Linked DNA regions of Homo sapiens. The gene in region 3 interacts genetically with the main gene of each other region. Each region holds a gene or a part of one and is shown on either strand. Other genes may lie near its edges.

Evidence for each region.
Region 1: changes in COPS4 (region 3) and BOD1L1 together harm fitness more than expected from each alone (negative genetic interaction), as found in Homo sapiens cells (one large-scale study listed by BioGRID).
Region 2: changes in COPS4 (region 3) and UBA3 together harm fitness less than expected from each alone (positive genetic interaction), as found in Homo sapiens cells (one large-scale study listed by BioGRID).
Region 4: changes in COPS4 (region 3) and NUDC together harm fitness more than expected from each alone (negative genetic interaction), as found in Homo sapiens cells (one large-scale study listed by BioGRID).
Region 5: changes in COPS4 (region 3) and SMC5 together harm fitness more than expected from each alone (negative genetic interaction), as found in Homo sapiens cells (one large-scale study listed by BioGRID).
Region 6: changes in COPS4 (region 3) and DUT together harm fitness more than expected from each alone (negative genetic interaction), as found in Homo sapiens cells (one large-scale study listed by BioGRID).
Region 7: changes in COPS4 (region 3) and XRN2 together harm fitness more than expected from each alone (negative genetic interaction), as found in Homo sapiens cells (one large-scale study listed by BioGRID).

What each region holds. Positions count from the first base shown.
Region 1 is NC_000004.12:13,596,502-13,600,723, reverse strand, and holds part of BOD1L1 (biorientation of chromosomes in cell division protein 1-like 1), read left to right. Parts: coding exon 1-1,778; intron 1,779-3,555; coding exon 3,556-3,620; intron 3,621-4,222. UniProt on the Homo sapiens protein: Component of the fork protection machinery required to protect stalled/damaged replication forks from uncontrolled DNA2-dependent resection.
Region 2 is NC_000003.12:69,066,277-69,070,498, reverse strand, and holds part of UBA3 (NEDD8-activating enzyme E1 catalytic subunit), read left to right. Parts: intron 1-2,490; coding exon 2,491-2,571; intron 2,572-4,222. UniProt on the Homo sapiens protein: Catalytic subunit of the dimeric UBA3-NAE1 E1 enzyme. E1 activates NEDD8 by first adenylating its C-terminal glycine residue with ATP, thereafter linking this residue to the side chain of the catalytic cysteine, yielding a NEDD8-UBA3 thioester and free AMP.
Region 3 is NC_000004.12:83,044,927-83,049,148, reverse strand, and holds part of COPS4 (COP9 signalosome complex subunit 4), read right to left. Parts: intron 3,524-4,222; coding exon 3,444-3,523; intron 1-3,443. UniProt on the Homo sapiens protein: Component of the COP9 signalosome complex (CSN), a complex involved in various cellular and developmental processes.
Region 4 is NC_000001.11:26,924,342-26,928,563, forward strand, and holds part of NUDC (nuclear migration protein nudC), read left to right. Parts: intron 1-4,222. UniProt on the Homo sapiens protein: Plays a role in neurogenesis and neuronal migration. Necessary for correct formation of mitotic spindles and chromosome separation during mitosis. Necessary for cytokinesis and cell proliferation.
Region 5 is NC_000009.12:70,345,630-70,349,851, forward strand, and holds part of SMC5 (structural maintenance of chromosomes protein 5), read left to right. Parts: intron 1-949; coding exon of another isoform or gene 950-975; coding exon 976-1,020; intron 1,021-1,436; coding exon 1,437-1,532; intron 1,533-1,983; coding exon 1,984-2,088; exon of another isoform or gene 2,089-2,092; intron 2,093-2,289; coding exon 2,290-2,409; intron 2,410-4,222. UniProt on the Homo sapiens protein: Core component of the SMC5-SMC6 complex, a complex involved in repair of DNA double-strand breaks by homologous recombination.
Region 6 is NC_000015.10:48,337,334-48,341,555, forward strand, and holds part of DUT (deoxyuridine 5'-triphosphate nucleotidohydrolase, mitochondrial isoform 1 precursor), read left to right. Parts: intron 1-3,955; coding exon 3,956-4,030; intron 4,031-4,181; coding exon 4,182-4,222. UniProt on the Homo sapiens protein: Catalyzes the cleavage of 2'-deoxyuridine 5'-triphosphate (dUTP) into 2'-deoxyuridine 5'-monophosphate (dUMP) and inorganic pyrophosphate and through its action efficiently prevents uracil misincorporation into DNA and at the same time provides dUMP, the substrate for de novo thymidylate biosynthesis.
Region 7 is NC_000020.11:21,382,755-21,386,973, forward strand, and holds part of XRN2 (5'-3' exoribonuclease 2), read left to right. Parts: intron 1-4,113; coding exon 4,114-4,219. UniProt on the Homo sapiens protein: Possesses 5'->3' exoribonuclease activity. May promote the termination of transcription by RNA polymerase II.

The DNA.
Region 1 (4,222 bases), about 69 Mb from region 3:
TAGCTTAGCAGGGGGTAAAAATCAAGGCAAAGTTTTGATTATTTCCACCAGTACCACAAATGATTACACCCCTCAGGTAAGCGCAATTACAGATGTGGAAGGAGGTCTCTCAGATGCTCTGAGAACTGAAGAAAATATGGAAGGTACCAGAGTAACCACAGAAGAATTTGAGGCCCCCATGCCCAGTGCAGTCTCAGGAGATGACAGCCAACTCACTGCCAGCAGAAGTGAAGAGAAAGATGAGTGTGCCATGATTTCCACAAGCATAGGGGAAGAATTCGAATTGCCTATCTCCAGTGCAACAACCATCAAGTGTGCTGAAAGTCTTCAGCCGGTTGCTGCAGCAGTGGAAGAAAGGGCTACAGGTCCAGTCTTGATAAGCACCGCCGACTTTGAGGGGCCTATGCCCAGTGCGCCCCCAGAAGCTGAAAGTCCTCTTGCCTCAACCAGCAAGGAGGAGAAGGATGAATGTGCTCTCATTTCCACTAGCATAGCAGAAGAATGTGAGGCTTCTGTTTCCGGTGTAGTTGTTGAAAGTGAAAATGAGCGAGCTGGCACAGTCATGGAAGAAAAAGACGGGAGTGGCATCATCTCTACGAGCTCGGTGGAAGACTGTGAGGGCCCAGTGTCCAGTGCTGTCCCTCAAGAGGAAGGCGACCCCTCAGTCACACCAGCGGAAGAGATGGGTGACACCGCCATGATTTCCACAAGCACCTCTGAAGGGTGTGAAGCAGTCATGATTGGTGCTGTCCTCCAGGATGAAGATCGGCTCACCATCACAAGAGTAGAAGACTTGAGCGATGCTGCCATCATCTCCACCAGCACAGCAGAATGTATGCCAATTTCCGCCAGCATTGACAGACATGAAGAGAATCAGCTGACTGCAGACAACCCAGAAGGGAACGGTGACCTGTCAGCCACAGAAGTGAGCAAGCACAAGGTCCCCATGCCCAGCCTAATTGCTGAGAATAACTGTCGGTGTCCTGGGCCAGTCAGGGGAGGCAAAGAACCGGGTCCCGTGTTGGCAGTGAGCACCGAGGAGGGGCACAACGGGCCATCAGTCCACAAGCCCTCTGCAGGGCAAGGCCATCCAAGTGCTGTTTGTGCGGAAAAAGAAGAGAAGCATGGCAAGGAGTGCCCCGAAATAGGACCATTTGCAGGAAGAGGACAGAAAGAGAGCACTTTACACCTCATAAATGCAGAAGAGAAGAATGTATTGTTGAACTCCCTTCAGAAAGAAGATAAGAGCCCAGAGACAGGGACAGCAGGGGGCAGTAGCACAGCAAGTTATTCAGCAGGAAGGGGCTTAGAGGGGAATGCTAACTCACCTGCCCACCTGAGAGGACCAGAACAGACGTCTGGGCAGACGGCTAAGGATCCCTCTGTCAGCATTCGCTATTTGGCAGCAGTAAACACCGGTGCTATAAAAGCTGATGACATGCCACCTGTTCAAGGGACCGTGGCTGAGCATTCCTTTCTTCCTGCTGAGCAGCAGGGGTCTGAAGACAACTTGAAAACCAGTACCACCAAATGTATTACTGGCCAAGAATCAAAAATTGCTCCTTCCCACACAATGATCCCTCCAGCTACTTACAGTGTAGCTCTGTTGGCTCCTAAATGTGAGCAGGACTTGACTATAAAGAATGATTATAGTGGCAAATGGACTGATCAAGCATCTGCTGAGAAAACAGGAGATGATAACAGCACAAGGAAATCATTCCCTGAGGAAGGAGACATAATGGTTACTGTGTCTTCTGAAGAAAATGTGTGTGACATAGGTGAGAATCTGTACCTAATTGCAAATTTTAATATTTACAAGGATGATTGTACAACAGAGTGCATTTAGGACAGTCTTCCAAAAGATGGTTTTGGTTCCAGAAAGATAAAATATCTATAAATTTTTTTCTCATATCATAATGTTGCAAAATAACTCTCATCAAACTTGAAGGTCAAACTTCTCTAAAAGCTACTTGTGTTTAAAAGTTTAAAGCCTTTGGCCCATTTCTCATGTGTGGGGAGAGAAAAAGCAGGAGGCTGAGGCATGGGAAGTCCACATGTTATTTACATGACTGCTGCAACTTACTAAACCTTTTTGACCTACAGGTTTTTTGTCAATCAAAAAGAAGAATACCCTACCACAACCCAATGAAAGCAATACATTTTTTTTTTACCACCCTCATTTTACAAACGAGGAAATAGGGTCAGAAAATTTAAATAGCATTCATGGTCCTCGGGTGACTTTTAGAGGAAAAATCAGTTTCTGAGCCTCCATTTCTTGTTGTATAAAATGGGGATAATAAGACGGGATGATAATACAAAGGCAAACACGATTCCAACCCTCATCTGATCATAGGTTTGCAGTATTTGTTTGTTCAGTCTGTTAGTTCCTTTGAATCAAAGGAGCATGTTATTTTTAACTGAGCTTATTTTTCAGGTGAAATGAGTTTCTAGTTTAGAATATATTTGAAAGTGAAAAGAAACATTTTTCCCTGCTGACAGATTTTGGACAGTGCTGGTCTTTTAGAAATAGTTAATAACTTTCAAAGATATTATCTCAGTCATGCCTTATACCGTCCAACTTCAGATACTTTATACCAGTCCAGATTGGAGAAAAGTGGACAGTGACACTTTAAAGCATGACAATTGCATAGACTGGGATTAAGCACAGGATGCTGTAGGAACAAAAGGGTCCTCATGGGCTGGACTTGAAGGGACAGAGGAATTCTTTTCCACTCTGGCTATATAAATTGTAGCATCCTGGACTTTTAACTGAAATAGACCTTAGCCATCATCTAACCCAGTCTCAGGAAGCTGAGGCTAATAGATTTAGTCTTGTTCATTATAGAGACTTAGGAGACTTTAAGAAATGCTCCAAGGGTTGAAACAAGTAACTTTACAAGTTTCTGTTGAATTTAGCCTGGAGTAAATTGAATGCTCCAGAAGTTTTTATGACTCAATCATTGCTACAATTACTCATTCCTCCTTTTTTCCTGAAGAAGTGAAAATAGAAGGGTTTCCACAGAAGCTTCTACACAATCTAAAGAAGGATATAAGAGGCAAGACCAGAGTAGAACTGAATCTCTGCACCTGAGAAAATTTTTTCTTTTTGTCTACCTCACAGTTTAACTTTGTGTTCAATTTTTCTGTGTTCAGTGTGAAGCAAGTAAAGTGAATCTGTTAATAAATCACCTTTACTGAGAATAGACCTTAGTGACTCAGAATATTTTTAAGGACAAACTTGATGGAGATCACTGCAGAAAAATACTTGGAAATGAAGATGTCTCCACAGATAATACTTTTGTCATTCTTTCTGGGCAGTTATCTTACTGTGCAAATAAGAATTTCACTCACCCAAAATGAGCAAATAATCCCTGCCTTTCATCCAGATTCTTTTATACAACATATTCCTTTTGATCATTTTCTACTGACAGCAAAATAAACCAGAAAAGGAAGGTGCAACAGCATGTCAGATAACCACATTCCATTACTTTTTGACCCCAGATGTATTTTGCAAGCAAATTCTTAAACTGTACTAAATGGCTTGAATTTTATTAGGCAATGAAGAGTCTCCATTGAATGTTTTGGGAGGATTGAAACTGAAAGCCAACTTGAAAATGGAGGTATGGCTTATAATTCAGCTGTGCTGAACTGTAAGTGATTAAATACTGTTTCATCACATATACACATATATATACTTATGTGGTATATAGGTCCTGTTCTCATTGTACTTATGATATTTAGTGTTGTTATTGCCATATCCTGTGGGGGGAAAGCTAAGAACCTCAGTAATCTTAGTAAATAGTGCTATCATCAGTTCATTTACTCAAGCCAGAAACACAAGAGTCACCCTCAGTTTCTCCGTCATCCCACATTTAATCTATCGCCATTTCTTACAGGTTCCATTTCCAAAATATAACATGAGTCCATCTATTTCTGTTTCTACAGTCATCACCCTAGGCTAAGCCACTACTTCAGTAGCCTCTCCATTAGGCTTAGTTCACTCCAGCCCTCCTCCAGTGTGATTCACACAGTCCTGCAGGTAGTCATTAGAAACATAACTTAGGCCCTGTCATTGCTCTGCTTAAAATTTGTGGTGGCTTCCCATCATGCTTAGAATAAAATCTGCTTTTTTTTTTTTAAGCATGGCTTTGGTGCTTTACACAATTTAGTCTCCATATCCTCTTTCTAGCCTGATCTGAAGGCACCATCCAAGTATATGTGA
Region 2 (4,222 bases), on a different chromosome or scaffold from region 3:
TCTCTCTATTTAGGAAGTTTGCATCTGTTACTGACAGTGCTCAAATTGTTCTGGGTATATAGGATAAAGTTGAGCTAGCAAAAAAGGTAACATTAAGTTTTTGGATAGGCATAAAACCTCTACATTATCTTTGTGGAAGATCTTAATGGGACTGAAGTATGGATTAAAATAAGTTAATGAAGTGTTGTAATTGCAGTGTGACCCTTAATGTTTAACTTTTAAGCTTTATTTTTTGTTTATTTTTTAACCTTTGAAATTTCCCTTCTCTATAGCAAAGTTTGTGGGCTCTGTCCAGCTTGTCAAATTTTGAGTTGTGAATTCTCTGAAAAAGATACCACTGAATTGATTTGTTATTGATACAGGCCATACCCTTTAATTTGTGGCTAAAATGGTTGAAGATGGTAATAACGATATGTAGCAAGTACTTCTAAACTATCCATATTATTCCATTTAATCTCAGCAACCTCAGGGTAGGTTCTTGTGTTCAAGGTTAAATAATTTGGGCAGAGTGTCCTGCAAGGATGATGTGTGTGAAAGGCCATTTTATTGAGGTGGAGCAATCTGATTGTTTCATCCTGGAATGGTAAATTAACAAACAGTTCCCAGAAACCATCTAGGAGTTCTTTTGTTTGGGCCGTGCCATAAAAGCACATAGAATATATTACTTAAAATAATCTTAGAAGTCTACTTTATCCCTTTTACAAACCAAAAGAGCTTTCTGTGTGTGGAGCCATTGAATGCAATACTGAAATTAAGTTCTTTGATTTATAACAGGGCCTTTTTTATGTAAGTTAGTACAAAGTGAAGATAAAACATTTACCAAAAGTTTTGAATCAAAAAAGAACAGTGCTTTATTGGAGAGAAAAAAAATTGGCCTGGCATGGTGGCTCATGCCTGTAATCACAGCACATTGGGAGGCTAAGGTGGGCGGATCACTTGAGGTCAGAAGTTCGAGACCAGCCCGGCCAACACGGTGAAACCCTGTGTCTACTAAAAATACAAAAATTAGCCAGGCGTAGTGACTCATGCCCGTAGTCCCAGCACTCTGGAGGCTGAGACAGGAGAATTGTTTGAATCTGGGAGGCAGAGGTTATAGTGAGCCGAGATTGTGCCACTGCACTCCAGCGTGGGTGACAGAGCGAGACTCTGTCTCAAACAAACAAAAAAAAAGAAAAGAAAAATTGACATGCTAAAGTGTTTTTCTTTGAAATTTCAGATTTTTTTCTAATAAGCACACGATTTATTATTTTCATTTATTTTAAAAGTATTTACTGTGTGCTAGGTAGGAAGGAATATGAAGAGAGTAAGAACATGGTCACTTTCATCCAAATAATAGTCTAGTGGGTATGATAGACGTGTATGTAGCAAATATGTTACGAAAAAAGTAATAATGTTCTTATTATATACATGGAGTGATTTCTCTGAGGAGAATATGGAAATATTAGGAAAGAAAATACCATTTGTATAGAACTTAGAGGAGGAAATTCATATCCTTTCCTATCTATATGTGTGGTTATTGTTTTAAGAGTGACCTTTTGAGGCCTTATATATTCAGCTTCTGTGATGTAATAGTAACATTTGCAATTTTAGCTGACACTTTTGGTATTATTCTTTCTTTAAAAACTTGGTGCCGGGCATGGTGGCTCATGCCTGTAATCCCAGCATTTTGGGAGGCTGAGGCGGGCAGATCACCTGAGGTCAGGAGTTCGAGACCAGCCTGACCAACATGGCAAAACTAAAAATACAAAAACTAGCTGGTTGTGGTGGCAGGCACCTGTAATCTCACCTCCCTAGAGACTGAGGCATGAGAATTGCTTGAACCTGGGAGGCGGAGGTTGCAGTGAGCCGAGATCGCACCACTGCACTCCAGCCTGGGTGACAGAGTGAGTGAGACTCCGTCTCAAAAAGAAAAAAGAAAAAAACGTGGTTACAGCCTCTTTTTTTTTTTTTTTTCCATTTTATATACGGTCCAGTGAAATTTTTTTTTTCTTTTTTTTTCTTTTTCATGCAGCTTCTTAGGGGACACAAAATTTGCTGCTTAATCAGCACACACAGGAAGAAGGGGTTAAATGAAGGTTCTTGCATCCCAAGGATGAATCTTATTGTGTATATTTCAGCCAAGACCTGTGGAGTAACACCATAAGGTTCTGAGCTCTAAGAGTGGGATAATTTTTTACAGTGGAAAGTGGCCAGGAATCATAGCATTATTATGCTTTATCTGGGAGGAAGAACACTGTTCAGATTTTCTCTTAATTAAAGCAATACTTAATTAGACTTATGTTAATTTGGACCATTAGCAAGGGTTGACATTTAAGGTTAAATGACCGTTTACCAAAAGTTATTACTGAAATCAAAATACTTAGGCAAAAATATTCCTTCTAAATTTCCTATAAGTAAACTTACTGTGAATTTACTTTTATGTTTGAAAATAAGTTATGTAGATCATATAGATTTATAATATGAATTATAATTTAAATATTTTTCCTGTAGGCCTAAAGATATTGGAAGACCTAAGGCTGAAGTTGCTGCAGAATTTCTAAATGACAGAGTTCCTAATTGCAATGTAGTTCCGTATCCTTTTGACAAAAAGAAAATTACTTAATTTTTAAAAGCTTTTTTCCTTTATTATAAGAGATATTTAACAGAGAATACAGATAAGCAAGAGGGAAAAAAAGTCAGCAGTAGTAACTTTATTACTGAGATAACTGCTGGTAACATTTTGCTATCTATTCTTCCAGTCTTTTCTGTATGGTTATATAAATATTTTTTGGGCCCTGATTTTTAACTTAAGTTTATAAAGCCTGTTTCATCATCTACTTTATTTTGCATTATTGCCCTTAATTTCAGTATCAATTACATATCTCCTTTACTAGAGTGTAAATTCCTAGGCTGGATCCAATTAATCTTTGTTTCTTTATAGTAGCAGACAGAGTAGACAGTCAATATAGTATTAGCCAAATGGAAGGTACATCACAGTAAATTTATTTTTACAAGAAATATGTTTTTAAAAAGGAGTATTTACACTGTAGTTTGAATTTAGATCTGGAGAACTTTTGGCATTTTATAGAAAGTCAGAAGATGTGATTTCTATGTAGAAAGTCCCACAGAATACAAAATCAACATACCGGTGAACTTGTGAAAGTTAATGTAAAATACAATGCCATTTACAACTGCTTAGAAAGAAAAATAAATACTTAGATGTAAACTACAAGATAAGTAAGAGATTTATATAGTGAAAAACTACAAAATGCTGATGAAAGAAACCAAAGAAAATCTAAATAAATGGAGAGATAGTCCATCTTCAAAGATTGGAAGATTAAATATAGTAAAGATGTCATTTCTCCCTAAATTTGTATACATATATACCATAGTTTCTATTAAAATCCCAGCAAAATTGTCGATATAGACGATCTTCTAAAATTTTATATAGAAAAGCAAAGGAATACCTACTACAAATCTGAAAAAGAAAGTGGGAGGAATCACTATCCAAATTCTAGACTTATATAGCTATAGTAATCCAGACTCAGTGGCGTTACCAGAGGGATATATAGATGACTAGAACAGAATAGGGAAGCCAGAAATAGCCCCATATAAGTATGGCCAATTTGTTTTTGATAAAGGTGCAAAACAGTTCCAATGGAAGAAGCATAGTCTTCAACAAATCGTACTGGAGCAATTTCATATCCATAGTTAAAAGATGAATTTTGACCTAAACATACAAAATTAACTCAAAATGGATTATAGGTGTAAATATAAAATATAAAATGAGCCAGGCGTGGTGGCTCATGCCTGTAATCCCAGCACTTTGGGAGGCCGAGGTGGGTGGATCACTTGAGGTCAGGAGTTCGAGACCAGCCTGGCCAACATGGTGAAACCCCGTCTCTACTAAGAATACAAAAATTAGCCGGGCACAGTGGCTCCCAGCTACTCAGGAGGCTGAGGTGGGAGAATCGCTTGACCCTAGGAGGCTGAGGTTGCAGTGAGCTGAAATTGCGCTACTGCACCCCAGCCTGGGCGACAGAGCAAGGCTCCATCTCAAAAAAACAAAAAAAAACACAAAAAACCATAAAACGATAGAACTTTAGGGTTTGGTGGAGAGTGCTTAGGCCACGTCAAAAGCAAGACCTGTAAAAGGTGGGGTATGGTGGTGCAGATCACTGAGGAAGCAGTGAGCTTTTATCATACCACTACAGAGTCCTGGCTGCTTGGGAGGCTAAGGTGG
Region 3 (4,222 bases):
AAAAGATAAGAAAACATGAGCTGATAAATTGTCATTAAACAATCAACCTTTACTTAAAATTAATACTAACAACAATCTATATTAGTACAGCCTTCAATGCATTATTCAAGGATTTCCATACCCCTATCATTTTATATTACATCATCAGTTTTCCTTATGCTGAAATACTTGATTACACAATGACCACACAAAAACAGTAAAAATAGGCCAGTGCGATGGCTCACGCCTGTAATCTCAGCACTTTGGGAGGCCGAGGCAGGCAGATCACGACGTCAGGAGTTCGAGACCAGCCTGACCAACGTGGTGAAACGCTGTCTCTACTAAAAATACAAAAAAAAAATTAGTCAGGCATGGTGGTGGGCACCTGTAGTCCCAGCTACTCAGGAGGCTAAGGCAAGAGAATCGCTTGAACCTGGGAGGCTGGGGTTGCAGTGAGCCGAGATCACAGCACCGTACTCCAGCCTGGGCAACAGAGCTAGACTCTGTCTCAAAATTAATTAATTCATTAATTAATTAAAAAATCTTAAAAAACAGTAAAAATAACACAACTTTTCTAAGAAACAGAAATAATTGAAAAAAGTTTTAAAAGTTGATAATTTTATCTCATTTTTCTACAAAGTGAAGGCACAAAAACACCTATATTTTTATTTATGTGCTTATATCCTACCTTGTTCCAAAAAGGAGTTAAAAAAGAAAACAGTAAAATAATTTTCATGAAATTTAAATAAAGCAAGTGCTGCCAGTACAGTTATTGCCACTTATACTTTCCCAATAAAAACAATAAATAAGAACTTCAGTGAGCACTAGATGTATTGACATTATTTATAAACATTTACGAGGTATTATTTTATGTGATTAAGCTCTGGAGCCACACTGCTTCTACCACTACTGATTATATGACTTCAGACAAGAAACTTAACTTCTCTATGCTTCTCTGTGCTTCTGTTTCCTCATGTGTAACATCTATTTCATAAGGTTGTTATGAAGCTTAAATGCAATAATATACACAAAGCACTTTAAACAATACCTGGTACATAGCACTCAACAAATGTTACTATTATAACTATCATTTTAAATGCATCATTCTTGTAAACTATTGCTTAGATAAATTATTCAAGTCTTTTTTATTATTATTATTTTTTTTTTTTGAGACTGAGTCTCGCTCTGTCGCCCAGGCTGGAGTGCAGTGGCACCATCTTGGCTCACTGCAAGCTCCACCTCCCGGGTTCATGCCATTCTCCTGCCTCAGCCTCCTGAGTAGCTGGGACTACAGGCACCCGCCACCACGCCCAGCTGATTTTTTTGTATTTTTAGTAGAGATAGGGTTTCACCGTGTTAGCCAAAATGGTCTTGATCTCCTGACCTCGTGATCCGCCCATCTCGGTCTCCCAAAGTGCTGGGACTACAGGCGTAAGCCATGGCCCCGGCCAATTATTCAAGTCTTAAAGCAGCAGTTAATATGAAAATAAGTGATTCAAAAACTGTTCAGTTGATGTAAATGATTTTAACAGTAGACTGCTTTTCCTGGTGGTTTACTGGATTCAAAGCTTATACAAAGATCAAAAAATATATATATATATGTTTTTTAATTGTTTTTTTGAGACAATCTTACTGCTGCCCAGGCTGGAGCGCAGTGATGCAACCTCAGCTCACTTCAGTCTCGACCACCGGGGCTCAAGCAGTCTTCCCACCTCAGCGTCCCAATAGCTGGGACTACAGGCATGCATCACCACGCCAGGCTAATTTTCGTATTTTTTTGTAGAGACGAGATTTCTCCACATTGCCCAGGCTGGTTTTGAACTCCTGAGCTCAAGTGATCCCTTGGCTGGGTGCCATGACTCATACCTGTAATCGCAAAGTGTTGGGATTACAGGCATGAGCCACCGTGCCCAGCCAAGATCAAAGTTATAAAAAGCATTATTCTTCTGCTACTACAGTGCAAAGTTCTTAATAAACCACTCCTAACAGTTTTTTGGAAACCATTGCTAGTTTATCTCACACCGGAGGCCATGATTTTTTAAGGCAGTAACCTTTTAAGTTTTAAGGCAGTAACTTTTTAAGGCAGTATTTTTTTAAGGCAGTTGTAATTAATTAATCACATATTAATTGGAATTCATTATTGGGTAATACAGGATGTGACTGAGAAAACAGTTTCATTACAAGTGTCATTAGGCATTTAAGTTACCATACAAGCTGGTATTACTCAGGGAAATATAAGCAAGTAAGAGCAGTGTATCAGAAAACCTAGTTTCTGATCTGGGCTCTGCCAGCTAAATGTCCTTGAAAAAAAGTTACTCAATCCTGAGACTTGTCTTACAATATATTATACAGGGATACCTGTACCTATACGTTCTAGTCACAGGTTATTAAAAGGAGCCTATGTGACAGGTAATGTGTGTGAGAACACACTGTAAAGCACTATCAGATATCATTAATGATGTGAACTCACTATAAAATTCCATGTGAACTCACTATAAAATTCCTTAGGATAATGGCCTACAGACATATGCATGTTGCTGCACAGGACATGATTGTATTCTTTTTAATGTGTGCGTAGTATTTTATGGTGTATATGTGGCACATATTTCTATCCAATTTATTGATTCACACATAAGTTAAGTCCATGCCTTCCTTATTGTGAATAGCAATATGGCGAATATACAAGTGCATGTGGGGTTTCTTTTTGTGGAATTTTTAATTTTCTTTTGGATATATACTCAGTAATGGAATTGCTGGTTGAATGGTACTTCTGCTTTAAATTCTTTGAATAATCTCCAAACTGCTTTTCACAGTGGCTGAACTAATTTACATTCTCACCAACAGTGTATAAGCATTTCATTTTCTCTGAAGTCTAACCAGAATTTGTTATTTTTTTACTTTTTAATAGTAGCCATTCTGACTAATATTAGATGGCATCCCACATTGATTTGCATTTCTCTGATGATTAGTGATGTTGAACATTAAGAAAACAACCCCATTAAAACATTGACAAGGGACATAAGCAGACACTTCTCAAAGTACAGTACTGTACTACCCTGTAGTACAGTAATGTACTATAGAGTACATTTTAGGTACATTAGATGTACTACAGAGTACATTTTAAAGAGGAAAAGGAGGCACAGAGAGGTTAAATAATTGACCCAAGATCACACAGCTCATAAAATAGCATACCAGGATTTGAATCCAAACTATTCTCTTTACTATTATGCTATATTGTCCCTTATCAGCTATTATAACAATAAACATACAAAACTTTAATTAGGATTGTAATTCTGAAGATAATTCACTGAAAATTAATCAAGTTGTAAACAGTTTAAATTCTAAAATCAATCAATCTCAATGCATATTTAATATTGATAATTTGATACAAAACAAGGCTTGAGAGAACTTTAAAGTCCTAGCTCAGTAATACAAGGCAAGCATGAAATTTCCATTTCACTTACTTGCTTCCACAAAAGCTTTCAAAGCTTCTAGTTGTTCTGCTCCAGATAACTGAATGGCTTTTTCCAGGATCTGACGATACCTACAACAATACCAAATGAAAATAATGTTCTGAGGGTACTATATTTTCTAATGCAAACTTTGATGTGTATTTATTCATTTCTACATACCTTGGTTTCTTTCATAGTACTATAGTTTGTGGTTTTCTTTATAGTATACCACAGATTTTTTTTTAAGTTTCTAGTCTATCACAAGAGATATTAAATCTATAATTATATAAGGTACCACTTCATCTAGTTTTCAGTATAGTATACCAGAATTTTTTAAGTTTTCAAGCTCATCACAAGAAAGAATGAATCTATAATTCTGTTACTGAATCTAAGGTGTCACTTTTTCTTGAAGGTTTTATTTTTGAATTTAAACTACAAAGTCAATTTCCTTTCAAATGCCTTAAAAGATAAGCTATATTTCCTTCAACTGTGCAATACATAGACACACAAAAACATTATTTGAGGTGACCTGAATCTTTTCCTCTTACAGACGTAATGTATGTAGGGTCACCAGCAATAGGATAATGTTGACCAGGCAACGAAACCAAACATTAAAGACTGAATGTCTTAGTCTGTACAAAATAAACTTCGCCAAGCCAAATGCACTGATAGAATACCATTTATGCTGTCAGACAGTACCTATTTATTCTTTATTTGCATTCAGATCTAATAACTATTCTACCTAATATCTGTGACCACACAAGCTCCACGAGGACAGGAATTCTTGTGTT
Region 4 (4,222 bases), on a different chromosome or scaffold from region 3:
TATCTACCTTATTTCCCATGACTTTTGCAGTTCTACAAGAGGGGCAGGTGTTAACTATCCCCATTGAGGAAATTGGCTCAAGAGAATTTTGCACCTTATCCAAAGTCTTGAGCTGAGCTGTGGGAGAACCAGGGTTGAAACCAGTCTGTTGTAAACCTGTCCTCTGCCCCGACACAGTGCCTCTCAGTTCCTTTTCCAATGAGGAGGTTTTATTTATTTATTTATTTTCTGAGACAGAGTCTTGCTTTGTCACCCAAGCTGAAGCGCAGTGGCGCAATGTCGGCTCACTGCAACTTTCGCCTCCTGGGTTCAAGCAATTCTCCTGCCTCAGCCTCCTGAGTAAGTGGGATTACAGGCGCCCGCCACCACACCTGGCTAATTTTTGTATTTTGATAGAGACGAGGTTTCATCATATTGGCCAGGCTGGTCTCGAACTCCTGACCTCATGATCCACCCGCCTCGGCCTCCCAAAGTGCTGGGATTACAGGTATAAGCCACTGTGCCTGGCCAGGAGGTTTTATTTTTACTTTTATTTATTTTATTTTATTTTATTTTTTGAAATGGAGTCTCATTCTGTTGCGCAGGCTGGAGTGCAGTGGCATAATCTAGGCTCACTGCAACCTCCGCCTCCTGGGTTTAAGTGATTCTTGTGCCTCAGCCTCCCAAGTAGCTGGGATTACAGGCAGGCGCCACCATGCCTGGCTAATTTTTGTATTTTTAGTAGAGATGAGGTTTCACCATGTTGGCCAGGCTGGTCTCGAACCCCTGACCTCAAGTGATCCACCCACCTCGGCCTCCTAAAGCGCTGGGAGTACAGGTGTGAGCCACTGCACCCGGCCTGAGGAGGTTTTAACTAATAACCTAGGAGATGAGACTGGGCAAATATTAGAAACTGATGCTTAGAAATAAATTTAGAAGGCCGGGCGCGGTGGCTCACGCCTGTAATCCCAGCACTTTGGGAGGCCGAGGCTGGCGGATCACGAGGTCAGGAGATCGAGACCATGCTGGCTAACACGGTGAAACCCCGTCTCTACTAAAAACACAAAAAATTAGCCAGGCGAGGTGGCGGGCGCCTGTAGTCCCGGCTACTCTGGAGGCTGAGGCAGGAGAATGGCGTGAACCCCGGGGGGCGGAGCTTGCAGTGAGCCGAGATCGCGCCATTGCACTCCAGCCTGGGCAACAGTGAGACTCCGTCTCAAAAAAAAAAAAAAAAAAAAAAGAAATAAATTTAGAAATACTCAGAGGCATGTCTTCCCAGATGCTGTGACTCAGAGTTTAAGGATTTCTGTTTTGTAGTATTGATTCTGAGACCTTGAACTTCTTTCTGATTCCTTAAAGTTGTAATTATACTTTTGAAAATTGTTATATCATGAGGAATTTTTTTTTTTTTTTTTTTTTGAGACAGAGTTTCACTCTGTTGCCCAGGCTGCAGTGCAATGGCACGATCTCAGCTCACCACAACCTCCGCCTTGCGAGTTCAAGCAATTCTCCTGCCTCAGCCTCCTGAGTAGCTGGGATTACAGGCATGCACCACCACGCCTGGATAATATTTGTATTTTTAGTAGAGATGGGGTTTCACCATGTTGGCCAGGCTGGTCTTGAACTCCCAACCTCAGGTGATCTGCCTGCCTTGGCCTCCCGAAGTGCTGGGATTACAGGTGTGAGCCACCATGCCCAGCCTTTTTTTTTTTTGAGACGGAGTCCCGCTCTTTTTATCCAGGCTGGAGTGCAATGGTGCGATCTTGGCTCACTGCAATGTCTGCCTCTTGGGTTCAAGCAATTATTGTGCTCAGCCTCCTGAGTAGCTGAGATTACAGGCGTGAGCCACCACGCCCGGCGCCATTATCTTTATAATAGACATAAACAAGAGACATAATAAGAAGGAGACGTAGACGTTCTTTGCAAACCGTTTTCTGTGGCTTCAGGATTCTAACAAGTTGGTAAACTCTTTAATGTGTCCTGAATGTCTGAGGCCACTCTGTCATAGACACATTACCTAAGAGTAGGAGTCCCAGGTTCTTGGTCTAGCTTTGTCACCTAGTCGAGTTCCCAGCAATGCTCTGGTTCTTTCCATCTTTACATCTGTAAAATGGGAGAAAGTAGACCCCTTCTAGCTCAGATATTTTTTCTGTATTGTCACTAACACCTCTGGCCTTTCTGTGGGTCAGACTACCTGTAAAACCTCATGCCGCAAACTTACAAAAAAATACAAAAGCACTTTTAGTTTTTATAGCTTTTGGGACTAGTCATTTATTTTTTCTTTCTTTTTTTTTTTGACACGGAGTTTCATGCTTGTTGCCCAGTCTGGAGTGCAATGGCACGATCTCAGCCCACTGCAACTTCTGCCTCCCAGGTTGTAAGTGATTCTCCTGCCTCAGCCTCCTAAGTAGGTGGGATTACAGGCATGCACCACCATGCCTGGCTAATTTTGTATTTTTAGTAGAGACAGGTTTCACCATGTTGGTTAGGCTGTTCTCAAACTCCTGACCTCAGGTGATCCCCCAGCCTCAGCCTCCCAAAGTGCTGGGATTACAGGCGTGAGCCACTGCACCCGGCCTACTTTTTTCAATGAATGTTTATTGAACACTTAACACTTTGGATTATGTTAGGTGCTATATCAAACCTTTTGGGATTGCAGAGGTGAATACAGATTTGTTCTTTGTTTTCATGGATCTCACAGTGTAGCCAAAATAAAAAAAACAAGCAGTGAAAAAGTAGTGGGTGTTGGGGCAGAATCCCTGGGAACATAAAACTAACCTAGGTTGGGGGCTCAGAGAAGACTTTGTGAGGAAGTGACGCTTCAGATATGAAGGATGAATAGCTGTAAGAAGGGAGAGAGATGAACCGTGTGTGTGTGTGTCAGGGTCTTGCTCTGTTGTCCCAGCTGGAGCACAGTGGCTGTAAGAAGGGAGAGAGATGAACCGTGTGTGTGTGTGTGTGTGTGTGTGTGTGTGTGTGTGTGTCAGGGTCTTGCTCTGTTGTCCCAGCTGGAGCACAGTGGCGTGATCCAGCCGCCTTAGCCTCCCAAAGTGCTGGGACTACCTAATTTTTCTTTTTCTTTTTTTTTTTTTTTTGAGACGGAGTCTTGCTCTATGACCTAGGCAGGAGAGCAGTGGAGCGATCTCAGCTCACTGCAATCCCCGCCTCCCAGGTTCAAGCGATTCTTCTGCCTCAGCCTCCTGAGTAGCTGGGATTACAGGCGCCCGCCCCTATGCCTGGCTAATTTTCGTATTTTTAGTAGAGCCGGGGTTTCACCATGTTGGTCAGGTTGGTCTCGAACTCCTGAGCTCGTGATCTGCCCGCTTCGGCCCCTCAAAGTGCTGGGATTACAGTCATGAGCCACTGCGCCCAGCCCCTAATTTTTCTTAACTGTAAGAGGGAGCAGTCCTTACCTTACAAGGATGTTACGAGGATTTAAAAAAAGGCAAAGACCACAATCCACTTCAGAATCCCTTGGGGCCACATGTGTTTTGGTATTTAAAATTATTTGGATTTCAGAAAGGCAATACAGTGCATATAATGTGCATTACATACAATAATCTAATCGCAGGCCAGGAGCTGCATCCTGCAACAAAACACATTAATATTTCTGCAGAAATATATATATCAATATACATACCAAGTAGAAGAAATGAAGACTGTAAATACCTCATGCCACGAACTTACAAAAAAATACAAAAGCACTTTTAGTTTTTATAGCTTTTGGGGCTAGGAATTGTAGACTTGAATACAGCCATAGTGATCTAATCAATATGGTATTGATAGAAGAAGAGAAAAATGGACCAGTGAAGCAGAATAGAGAATCCTGAAATAAAGTCTGGCATTTATGAGGATTTAATGTGTCTATTGTGGTAATTCAGTTCAGTAGGCAAAGCATGATTTAATAAGTCATGCTGCTACATGAATTTTTTTTGGTTAAAAAAACAAAATTTGCCATCTGTCATACTCTATAAAAATACCAATAATAAAAATCCTGTAAGGAAAACTAGGAAACTATAGTCTTATGTGGGGGAGACTTTTCAGCATTAGAAAACTGGAAGCTATAAAAGAAGAGATAGCTGTTTGCCTTTTCAGATGCTGAAACTTTGTAAATGGTAAAAGACATTTAAGTCAATTGAAGAACACCAGATTATGAGAAAATATGCAGTGCAGAGGAAAAATAACATTTAATTGTGAATTTCATATTTAGGAACTCATAAATAAAAATTAGCCAGGCCTTGTG
Region 5 (4,222 bases), on a different chromosome or scaffold from region 3:
TGGGGTTAAAAATTATCCAAGCAGAGAAGAAGGCAGAAGCCAAGATTATGTAGGCCTTGTAGACTATACAAGCAATTAAGGTTGTATTCTTTTGGGATGGACTCCAGTGGAGGATCTTAAATGGAAAAGTGACATTACTACTTTTATGAACGAGCACTCTAACTTTTCTTCTAGATGGAGGATAAAGTAGGGATACAAGAATGGAAGCAGTGAAACCATTTAGAAGGTCATTTCTTTGGACCACGTAAGAGATACATGATGGCATGAATTAGGGTGATAGCACTGAAGAGAGAGAGGGAGAAGTTGACAAGTCTTAGGTATCTTTTAGTGACAGAGCCAGCAAGACTTGCTGATGGATTTGACATGAAGGATGAGAGAGAGAACCCCTAAATTTTTCACCTGAACAAATTACGATGCCATTTACTGGAATGGAGAAGATTGAAGGAGAAACAGGGTTGCTTAAAGTGATAGGGAAGGTGGGTGAAATCCAGATTCTGTTTCACCATCTTAAATTTAAGATGCCTATTAGAGTCAAGTGAGGATATCGAGTAAATAAATGTTGGACACATGAGCTTACATCTCAGTAAGTCAGAGATTCAACAGAGGAATATTTGAAGGTCTATAGAGGTTGAACTGCTTTCTAAGAGGTTAAAATAATAAGTTTAAGATATTAGATTAATATGTCAAGATCTTTTTCAGGGTTTCAGGATTCATTTTGTACCATGTAGTATATAGCCTTTGCAGGTTGTGCTAGGCCAAACAATGTACTGATTGCCTCCCCTCAAAAAAAAAAGTATATGTTCTAATTTGTCCCCATGGCATGGACTCAGAAGATAGTACTGTGGTGAAATTCAACTGTCAAAGTAATTAGATTCTCAGGATGCTTTTTTAGTTCTTCATAAGTGCAGTATAAAGTTCTAACTTCTTGCTCTCTTTCAATGCCCCACATATTCTGGACCCATTCTACCAATTCAGCAAGTACCCACCATTCCAAATGGACACAACTCCTCACTCCCCATGGTATGCAGTACTCATTCTTTTTTCCCAAGCTCCTGTTTTCCCTCTGCCTTGCTCCTCCCTAGCCATTTGCTTTAAGGCCCGGAGATGAATTCTAGGCCTTTGAATTCTCTTAACTCTCCTGTAGCATGAACTGATACTTCTTTTCTCTAAATTCCTAGCCTATATGATATGTACTGCTTGTTTTAATACTCAACATCAATACATTGCCTTAAAGTGTTATCCAGTACATACATTTTGTTTTCTTTAAAGTACAAGCTTTTGAAGGCAAATGACCCTGTTTATTATTCCTTTGTATTCTTGTGTGCCAGCATGCTGTTGAACAGATAGATAACTTATTCAGCAGATTATTTTTCTTTTAACTATTTGAATGGAACTGTTTTCATTGTATCTATAATGACGGGCAATTTTTTTCTTAGGTTTTCCAAGACCTTCCAAACACATTGGATGAAATTGATGCTTTATTAACTGAAGAAAGATCAAGAGCTTCCTGCTTCACGGGACTGAATCCTACAGTATGCCTGTTTCTCTATTCCCATTCTGCATCCAACCACCACCACCACCCTCCCCATACACACACATACACACACAGAGTTCCCTCCAGTACTTGCCTCCCACTCTGTACTAGAGCTCTTGGTAATAATAAGCTAGACAGCAGGAACAATGTACTTTAAATGCCAGATTCTGAATCTATTAGAATTTTAAATAGATTCTTCCTAAGGAACACAATGTTCTGTGCCTTTTCTTTATAAAAAGAATAGTTGGGCTAACCTGAAATACTGCAATGTCTATTTTTTCAAGGATAAAAAATGTCACTTTCAGTATGTAATAAGAGCATATATTATTTGCATACAAACAATGCAGCACAATTGGCATTTTCATTTAATGTTTTAATCAATGCAAAATTGTATATAGTTTTATCCTTTGGTAGATTTATCTTAAAGAAGTTTTTTTTTCCCCTGCCAGATTGTTCAGGAATATACAAAAAGAGAAGAAGAAATAGAACAGTTAACTGAGGAACTAAAGGGAAAGAAAGTTGAACTAGATCAATACAGGGAAAACATTTCACAGGTAATTTTTTAGTTTTTAATCTTTTTATCATGTGATTATTAATGAAATGGGAATGTAGAATAATGGAAAATGAGATGACATGCTTCTAAGAGAAGTGTGTTATGCCCAGACTGATACTGATATAAAATTTACATAAAATTGTGTGTCAGAATATAGTAATACTGCTTTTAAATTGTGTTTTTATATTGCCTTTATTTGTAGGTAAAAGAAAGGTGGCTTAATCCTTTAAAAGAGCTGGTAGAAAAAATTAATGAAAAATTCAGCAATTTTTTTAGTTCCATGCAGTGTGCTGGTGAAGTTGATCTCCATACAGAAAATGAGGTAAAATTGCATTTGAAATAAATAATATTTCTGGCAAATAATTTTAATTATATGCTTAAAGTACATATAAATTATTTATTTACTTTTGAGTTATATCTGTGAAAAGTTTTGTTTACCAAAATGTTGAAAGAAAGGAGAAAACCACCTGTGGGATTCCATTAGGGTCACTTTTTTTGGGGGGGGTTATGTTTGGAATTAGTGACTAATACCTTGTAACTCTTTTTATACATCTGAGTAATGGTTATTCAGTTGTATTGAATAAATACGTTATAAAGCTACCACAGCTGGAGTTAGAAGACTCAAACAGATTAGTTTGAAATATAGTGTATATCAGTGTCTTTTTTTTTTTAATAAAGAATTTAAGAATTCATGGTCAGGTGTGGTGGCTCACGCCTGTAATCTCAGCACTTTGTGAGGCTGAGGCAGGCAGATAGCTTGAGCTCACGGGTTTGAGACCAGCCTGGGCAACATGGCAAAATCGCATCTCTGTAAAAATACAAAAATTAGCTGGGTGCGGTGGTATGTACCTGTGGTCCCAGCTACTCTGGAGGCTGAGGTGCAAGGATGACTTGAGCCTGGAAGGTGGAGGTTCCAGTGAGCCAAAATGGTGCCACTGCACTCCAGCCTGGGCAACAAAACCAGACCTTGTCTCAAAAAAAAAAAAGAATTTAAGAATTTATAAGAATGGAAATAGTGGGAAATTTGCTACTAATTTCTTGTGCTGTAAGTTTATGCATTGCAATTTGGGCTAAAATTAATTTTTCTTTAAGACAGGCAAAGGCCAGGTGCTGTGGCTTATGCCTAATCCCACTTTGGGAGGCCAAGGCAGGAGGATCACTTGAATTCAGGAGTTTGAGACCAGCCCGGGCAACAGAGTGGGACAGAGACTCTGTCTCAAAAAAAAAGTAACTACTAGAAAATTGAAAATTACATATGTGGGTTGTATTATATCTTTCTCTTGCTCAGTACTATCTTAGACCTTAAAGCTCTATTCAATTAATAGATAACCTTTAATTAGTAAGTTTCATGTTTTTCGTTTTGGTTTTTTGAGACAAAGTCTCACTCTCACCCAGGCTGGAGCGCAGTGGCGCAATCTTGGCTCACTGCAACCTCCACCTCCTGAGTTCAAGCTATTCTTCGGCTTCAGACTCCCAAGTAGCTGGGATTACAGATGCCTGCCACCATGCCCGGCTAATTTTTGTATTTTTAGTAGAGATGGGATTTCCCCATGTTGGCCAGGCTGGTCTCAAACTCCTGACCTGAAGTGATCCACCCCCCTCGGCCTCCCAAATTGCTGGGATTACAGGCATGAGCCACCACACCCGGCCTAATTAGTAAGTTATGTATCTCATTTTTAAGGTAAATCTGAACCTGACATAGAAGTGCCATCAATAAGAATAGTAAACCTTAGAGCATCCTCAGTTTTGGCAACATTTATAAAACACTAATGTACTCATTACAACAAATATTTATTGAGCACCTATTACGTGCCAGGCTTGCTTTTTGCTGAGTATTGTGTGTATGTATGACTTAAGTTTTCAAAGTATATGTGTAATTCCTACCTTGTTTTTTTCCTTCTTAACCGACTGAAGAAGTTAGGGGGATTCTTGGCCCTCTGCAGTTACCATACACAACCACTTCTCTAGCACAAGAGAGCATGACACTCCATTATGTTCTAATTGCTTTCACCTACAGTTTAAGAACCTAGCATTTTGGAACTAGAATAGATAGTGCTTTTTGAGGACAGAGTTCCTCGCTCAGTAATTTCTAAAAACTCTTGGGGAAGCCTACTAAACTTGAATAGAATGGTATA
Region 6 (4,222 bases), on a different chromosome or scaffold from region 3:
ATTTTCAATGAAGTTTCAAATGATTGTTCAAGGAACGGGAGCTTTGGAATAACAACTGGATGTAGGTCCCAGCTCTGTCATTAACTAGTTATTACTTAACCTTTCTGAGCCTGTTTCCTCATTTTACAATGGAAATTAGTGTGCCTGCCTCTAGAGGTAGGAGGATTAAATGATAATGTGTATGAAATACCTAATATAGTACTTGGCACATATTAGATTCTGTGAGATATAATTTCTGTCCTTAGGGACTTCACAGATTGTTTTTATGTGGAAACTTTTTCTTTTATTCGACTTTGTTACTAATTTTTGCTCTGTTTAAAACAACTTTCTGGAAAAAAATTCATGTAAAAGAATGGAAAGTTAGTTTGCCTAGTGGTTGGTATGGTGTTATTCATAAAATCACATTGTGGTGTGTTCTTGGATGCAGAGAATCTTAACAATCTCCCTTAGGCACAAGTTTATCATAGTTGGCAACAGTTTTTATTTCTGAAGAGAGATGTTGTTAGAAATCCCAGGCTCTAAATAAGGGTCAAAGGGAAAAGTTGAGCATTCAGGATTCTGTTCAGAATTCACATCTGGTAGGTGTGGATAGTTTTTCACTAAAAAAGGTTTCCAACAAATGACATGCCAAACTCTTGACACAGTAAAACTTTTGCCTGAAGTCAGTTAATCACTCTGCCAGTTCCAATGCATGATTTTTCCAGTGATAACTTCAAGTTACTTTCTGCTTTCTCTGAGGAGAAATATCCCTGATACTTATATCCTGTAGGCAGAGAAGGCTTTTCTTGGAGGTCGAATGGCAATTGGGTGGTAAATGAATTTGGAACTACTGAAATTTTTATACCGTCAACATTCATGCAAAAAAAAAAACTATTGAGGGCCTTTTTTTCTGCCATACATTTGAATTGACTTCAAACTTCTTAATTTCTTTTAGTCACTTAAAGGTTTTTCACATTTTCGTGGCCCAAGCATAAAGATCACCTATCTGCAGGATTCAAGACACCCAATCATTTGAGTAGTTCTGATAGGACTGCTTTACAGATACGTTAGCAGAGGCCTTTCAAAAAGGGAGTGTTTTTGTATGTTAGAAGATACTATAAAGCCAACAAGCAAATATTTGCAACTTATATGAAAAAGAACAAATGAGAAAAAAACATACACAAAATATAGACAAGGACATGCAAATGTCCAACAAATGGGAGGAAAAAAATCCAGCCTCACTAGTCATCAGGGAATGAAAAGTAAGGCAATGAGATAGCCATTTTGTACTCATCATATTGGCCAGAATGTAAGAGATTGTTGCCATCAAATATTGGCAAGGATTTTGGAAATGGGCATTCTCAAATATTGCTGATGGAAGTTTGAGTGGCTACACCTTTTTTGCAACCTATTTGATGAAAATAAAAAGCATTCATATACAAGGATATACTTAAAGGGCTGCTTCATTTATTATAGCAAAATGTAAAAGCAGCCTGTGTCTGATATTATGCAAGAGAATAGTTACATAGAAACAATGGTACAGGTTGGGCGTTGTGGCTCATGCCTGTAATCCCAGCACTTTGGGAGGCTGAGACAGGCAGATTGCTTGAGCCCAGGAGTTTGAGGCTTATTTGAGCAACATAGGGATACTTTCTCTCTACAAGAAATACAAAAATTAGCCAGGTGTGGTGGTGCCTTTGTACCTGGAGGCTGAGGTGGGAGAATCACTTGAGGTTGAGGCTATAGTGAGTTGTGATCATACCACTATACTCCTGCCTGGGCTATAAGAGTGAGACCCTGCCAAAAAAAGAAAGAGAAGGAGAGAGAGAACCCATATTTCCATATCTTGTATCTAAAAAGAATGGCTAACATTTACATATATTAATCTCAAAGGATAAAAAGAAAAAAATAAAGTAGTATGTAAGATATATTTCTGTAACATTAGCTATCTCAGGGAGGGTAAGAGAATATTATAAGCTTTTACTTTATATGTATTTGTATTGTTTTAGTTATTTAAAAATTTTTGAATAAAGTAGAAACAATAGTTCAGAAGTCAGTCCATGTCTTTCTCTAACTCATTCAAGATAGATGAATTATTAGCTTGTACCTCAAAATCTCCCAGCATGGAAGTTCTCTAGCCTACTGTGGCCATTTTTTCTAGCATGGAACAACATGCTATGTTGAGGGATTTCTTCATTAAATCTAATTTAAATTGTCCCTGCAGTCAAAATTTTTTCCATATAGATAATATGGAAAACAGCTGGTTTCATCTTTATATCAAATTTTTTCATAAATATTAAGGTGTAAATTAATGGTCAACTGACGGTGGAGAAATAAAGCAGGGTTTGGTATTGGAATTGGTCAAGTTCAATAATGGATTGTTTCCTTCAGGCCCGACAGGAGATGAACTGCCTTTGCTGCTTTTCTGCCCAGTTTTATACTCACTCTTCTCGTAAAAGTGTTGCATCAGGAACCTTTTAAGAAGTGCTTAAATTCAGATTCACTTGTCCCTAGTAATTCATTCATAAAGCACAGGGGTTCATTTAAACGTATGTTGTAATCCATTCGGAAAATCTAAAATGTTGTTTTTGCTGAATATTTTTCCCCGTGGTGGACCTAAGGGTTTGCTTTTTTCCCCCCATTATATGAGAAAATTGAAAGGATATGCTTAGGAATTACCCTTGTTCTTAAAAAATGGGGGGTGGGTATGCTTTGGGGTTTTTTTGTCTGTTTTCTCAGCTTTCAAATAATGAGGAGTATGGGCAAATAGCATTACTGCCCATTGAGCTGAACACAGGATTATTTTTATTTCCATATTTTTTCCTTCATCAGGGCTTTTGTTTGGGGTAGAGTATTAATAACAAGTAAGATGTGACATGGAGCTGTCTTCAGTTAGATTCACGTGAGTCTTATCCAGCCTTTCACAAACTGAGGAGAAAGAATTAACGTGTATAGCAGGAAATTGGGGGTGGGAGGAGGAAGGGGAGTGACTGCTAATAAGGTAGGGGATTTTTGGAGGGAGGGTAATGTAAATGTGCTATAATTGACTGTGACGATAGTTGGCCAACTCTGATACACTATGAACTGTGGAATTGTAACACTTCAAATGGATAAATTGTATGCTTTGTGAATTATTTATCAATATAAAAAAATGAAAAGGCCCGGTGCACCTGTATTATCTGTGCTTGTGCTTATGGAAATATTTTAAATTATTGGCTCAAAGATAAATGCTAGCAAGTCTGGTAAGTATAACTCTCTGGGCTATGTCAGGGACCTGGCTCAAGTCTCCCCTGCAAAGATCTTCTCCCCCTGTGTTCATAATCTTAAACAAGTATTAATTACACAAAAAAAGTTGTACTCATGAAGCCTATGTGCTACAGTCTTCTGAGAAACCATGCTCTAAGAAAGGATGGTGGTTCAGATTAAAAGGAGAGGAAGATTATGAACTGAAAAATACAGCTTCATTTTTAGTGTAAAAATGGAATATTCTAATATTTGCAAGACTGCTGCTTAACAATGTCAGCGTTGATTTACTCCACTGCAGAGCTTTAGGCTTTTTGACATTTTTATTTATGACTCAATCGTATTTCAATCTGGGTATTAGCGGGAAGCTGATACCAGGAAAAACCTTTAAAACCCAAATCGTAATTTTCTCCTAGTCTTTTTGGCAAGTGTGCCGTGGGTAGACAGTAGGTTGGAGATGGCCATTGCTACTGCCAGCTTAAAATAGGAAATGGTCGCCATTTGATAAAGAGTGACAGGTTGGAAAATTAGGACCTGTTTTCTAAATTTTTATTTGTATTTTAGTAATGTCATTTCTTGGTTTTGAGGCTTTACATAGTACCAGGGCAAGATTCACTTATTCAATTGTAAGAATACAAATCTCAGAGCTACATGATAATGATTTTGAGATAATCTTACACCTCTAGTATTCCAATAGCAAAAATTGAGATAATATTACTTTTCTTTTCTCTAGCTGGTGTCATAGATGAAGATTATAGAGGAAATGTTGGTGTTGTACTGTTTAATTTTGGCAAAGAAAAGTTTGAAGGTATGTTAAATATATACATTCACATAATTTTAGTGAATTTTCAGAGTCATGTATGTGTAAATTAATATTGACTCCTTTAATTCTCATTGAATAAGACAGGATATGGCGAATGTGTCAGTAACGTCAGTAATAAACTATTCTTTCTTTGAAGTCAAAAAAGGTGATCGAATTGCACAGCTCATTTGCGAACGG
Region 7 (4,219 bases), on a different chromosome or scaffold from region 3:
GTCCGATGGACTCTGTACGACAAGACAACTAGGCACATTATGAATAATTAACATCTGTAGAATAATTTTTAAAGGCCAGCTTTAAGATGTATCATTTCATGATGGTTTTGCCAACATCAGTAAATGCAAAAACAAATTAAGCCCCATCATAATAAGGCTTTCTTTTTTGCCTTCCCAGTTTTAATCTGTTTTATTCTCTTCTCCTCTGCCATGTTTACAGTCTCTAATCTGTTCACATCTGAAATGAATAGTGTTTTTATAAATGGGATTCTAAATGCAGCTTCCCTTTTAAGAAAACTTTATAACTCTTTAGAGACTCCAGAACTTTATTTCATTGTTATCTTCAAGAGGATAAAAGGAATCATGTTATTCGATGTTTACTAATAGTGTCAACTTAGTGCAAGTCTCATTAAATGCAATACGACTAGCAATGTGTGTATTAATGTTTTGATTTTAGTATATGTTCTGAAAGCACACAGTATGTGCTGTTTCATTTTCCTCAGTACCACAAATTTTAAGCAGAAATTAAGTAAGTAAGGGGTAAATTTTTCCTAAATTATATACTTGGTTTCTCTATCTTATTGCTCACTTTCCATACTAATAATAATGGCAAATGTTTGTCTGCTTACAAAGTGTTAACACTGTGTTAACATCCTTTAATAAGAATGATTTCATTTATTCCTCCTAGCAGTGCATTGAAATAGATGCTGTTATGTTTACATTTTTGCAAATGAAGAAAGTGAGGCACAGAGAAGTTCAGCAGCTTACCTAAGGTCACTCTTTTGTGCCATTCTTTACCAAGAAACTTTTCACTGGAACAAAACTTACCAGAATATTTACTCTGAGCGTAATATAAAGACGTAGGGACTTCAAAGGAAGTAAAGGATCTGTTTCCACTTCTAAGGCCCCAACAGCTTTCCTCCCCTCTGTTCACATTAAAAGTTTTCCTAAGATCATCATCATTGTCCCTTCCCTTACCCTGCTGTCCATCAGGTTTTGTTCTTATTCTACCCTAGCCAAGTACTAGTATTATTCTGACTTTGTGAACCCAGCAGGTTAGTGACAAGTTTTGTGGGAATGTTTTTTGGTTTAGTTTTAGTCAGATACTTAAAATTATGCCTGAAAGCAAAAGGTAAATGTGAGCATAATAGAGTTCTATCATAAAAGTCTTACATCACAGACATTTAAGAAAGATACCATTTTGTTCCAGAACCAGGTTTTACCAGTTCTTAGTTCAGTATGTTTCCACGACGCTACTGTTTGTTGAGAATCCTATTAAGAGAATTTTGAGTGTCTTTTTTTTATTACATTGCATTTCTTGAATAATTTCCTACTTTAAGATGGTATGTATAATCCATATATCCAGTAGATTTAAAAATACAACAGGAACATCCTCCCAACACAGACACAGCCTAGAGTTAATAGATACCCAGCATTGGAGTTCCCTTTGTCACTTGAGTTTTGCCACATTGTTTGGGTTCTTCTTGTCAATGGAGGCCTCTTTTTCAGTCATTTGCAAGGCAGCCATTTAGTTTTTTACCTATGAGTGTTAAGCTCAATCATGAAAAATCTTTTAAATAAAACTCCGATTTTACCATATGCATACATTTAAAATATTCAAATTGGTAGTAGTTCACATCTCCAGTAACTTTCCAAAACAATTTGGAAACTTAAAAAAATTGTTGCTATCTACGATGCCAAATGGCTCAAATAAGTTGCCTTATTTATTAACTTCTTTTATTGATTTATTGATTGAGACAAGGTCTCACTCTGTCACCCAGGCTGGAGTGTAATGTCATGATCTTGGCTCACTGCAGCTTCTGCCATCCAGGTTCAAGTGATTCTGATGCTTCAGCCTTCCAAGTAGCTGGGACTACAGGCTCCCACACCACCATGCCTGGCTGATTTTTGTATTTTTAGTAGAGACGGGGTTTTCCCATGTTGCCTAGGCTGGTCTCAAACTCCTGGGCTGAAGTGATCTGCCTGCCTCGGCCTCCTGGAGTGCCGGGATTACAGGCTGAGTTACTGTGCCTGGCCTAATTGCTAATTTTTAGAATTTAGGATATGTCAGTTTCTGTGCTTCTATCCCAGATTTTAAAACATAATTTCCTAGGCAAATTTTTAGTTTTGTAAGTATTTGCAAAATATATAATTAGTCTAGACATGTGATAAACTTGTTGAAAATAAAGGCCTTTCTGTCATAAAAGTCAGAAGAAGGTAGTACATGACATCCTTGCTTTGTTCTTCTGTTTAATTTTAATTATTGATGATTTTTTTCATAAAAATTATATTTGTCAAAAACATTATAAGTAATCAATTCAAACAAAAAGAACTTTGCGTTTTTAAACTGTGGCTTTGTTCTTAACCTGTTTTTGGAACATAAAATAGTTTTGAATTGCATTTATAATGTATATTATTTATGCCAGCAGATCTTCCTAAAACTCAATTGAATTTTATTATTGTAAGACTCAAAAGAAAAACTGATCACAGTTAAGATGTGAATTGTGTTTTTAGCCCGTGGGTTTTGCATTAATTGGCCCAGTTTTGATGAGACTTTGGTTACAGCACAAACCTTAGTTTAGCCCTTCACTCCTGCAGAGACTGGAAGAGACCATTCCTATCTCTGCACACGGAGCTCTTCTTGCTAAAACAGATGGAGGCATTCTTGCTAAAATATATTTGTGCTAGTAATTGTCCTGAAAAATAATTAAAAGCCCTAGCCATATGCATTTTCTTTCTGAGATAAAAACTTATTTTTAATTGTATTCTGAATTACTTATAACACATTGTTATTAGAGCTCTGGTTTCAGCTACCAACTGTAAAGAAAAACTTTAGCCTTTCTAGAGTTCTTTAGAGAGCAGTTCATTTCTTCGAATCATCACACAAAAATAATTATCTCTGGTGTTGTTTTAATAAAAAGAAGGCAAGCTCCAAGTGAAGGGAGGAGAGTGGGGGTAGAGAGGATGGATTCAGGCTTGAATAGCTGTGAGAAGAATGCTTTACCCAATGAGCCCAGCGCCGGGCTTTTTTCCCCTAAGACCTCGGAAGTGAAATTCTTATGCTGATATGGTTATAACTGATTACCAGCTAGTCAGCACTTCAGTGAATTTAAAGTTTTATTGAATTCCTCCTAACATGGTCAGTGGCCCCAAAGCTTCTGATGTTCAAGTATACTGGAGCATTTGCCTCTGTTTATTCTTTGTAGTGCCTTCCATAAAATAGAAGTTATGGAAAGTGCCTTAAGGAGAAAGTAAAGTCTTAAATGGTGATTGCCTTTAGAAGGTATATCCTTGCTACATTGTTTATGTGACAGTTTTTAATTAAGTTATGATTTAGTACATTATACCTGTTGCTTTGCATCTGCAAAGTTAAAATAGTCACTTGAAGACAATTAAAACATTTCTTTCGACTAGTAATCTGCGACAGCAAACTGGGTTATAATAGCCGTTGAATCTGTGTTCCCATGTAAACTGTACACCAAATGCCAGTCAGCCCATGCCAATTAGTGCTCATGTTGCTAGGTCACCGTGGTCAATTGAAAGCTGCATCAATAGAACTTGAAAAGGTTTCCTCCCAATCAGACCTTCTGACATATTGAACAGAATAATGGATGGGAAAAAACAGCCAAGTCTCCTACCCTGGATTCAAAATACTCAGCAGTAAGAATTCATTTGCAACCTGCAATTAAGTAGAAAGAATGGATCCAAGAACGAGTCTGGACATTTTTGAAAATAAAGCCTCATTCTCCTGTCTTGTACATGTTTACTCTTTGGATAGCATCTTAAATGTAGCCATCTTGGTGATCTTGGGTCTACATCTTTAAGTGACTAAAAAGGAAATTTCCCAATTGAAAATGAACAAAATAACTTTTAAAAGTCAGAACTTCTCAGTTGAGTTTAAACATCCATTGTAATAAATGCTGATGCTTCATGAAACATGTTAGATTATACTGGATATAAGGGACACAAAGGCCATTCTGATACTCTGTATCCCATATGATAAATCCAGGTAAATTGGATTGTACTAAAATTTGGAGATGATACCTGCCGATTTTAGGCTTTGTGCTGTATAATAGGTGTGGCTTCTGATGTAAAACTGGTACTTTCCTACAGAGGCGTTGGGGCTGAACCTCTGCTCCCATGGAACCGGATGCTGCAAACCCAGAATGCAGCCTTCCAGCCAAACCAGTACCAGATGCTAGCTGGGCCTGGTGGGTAT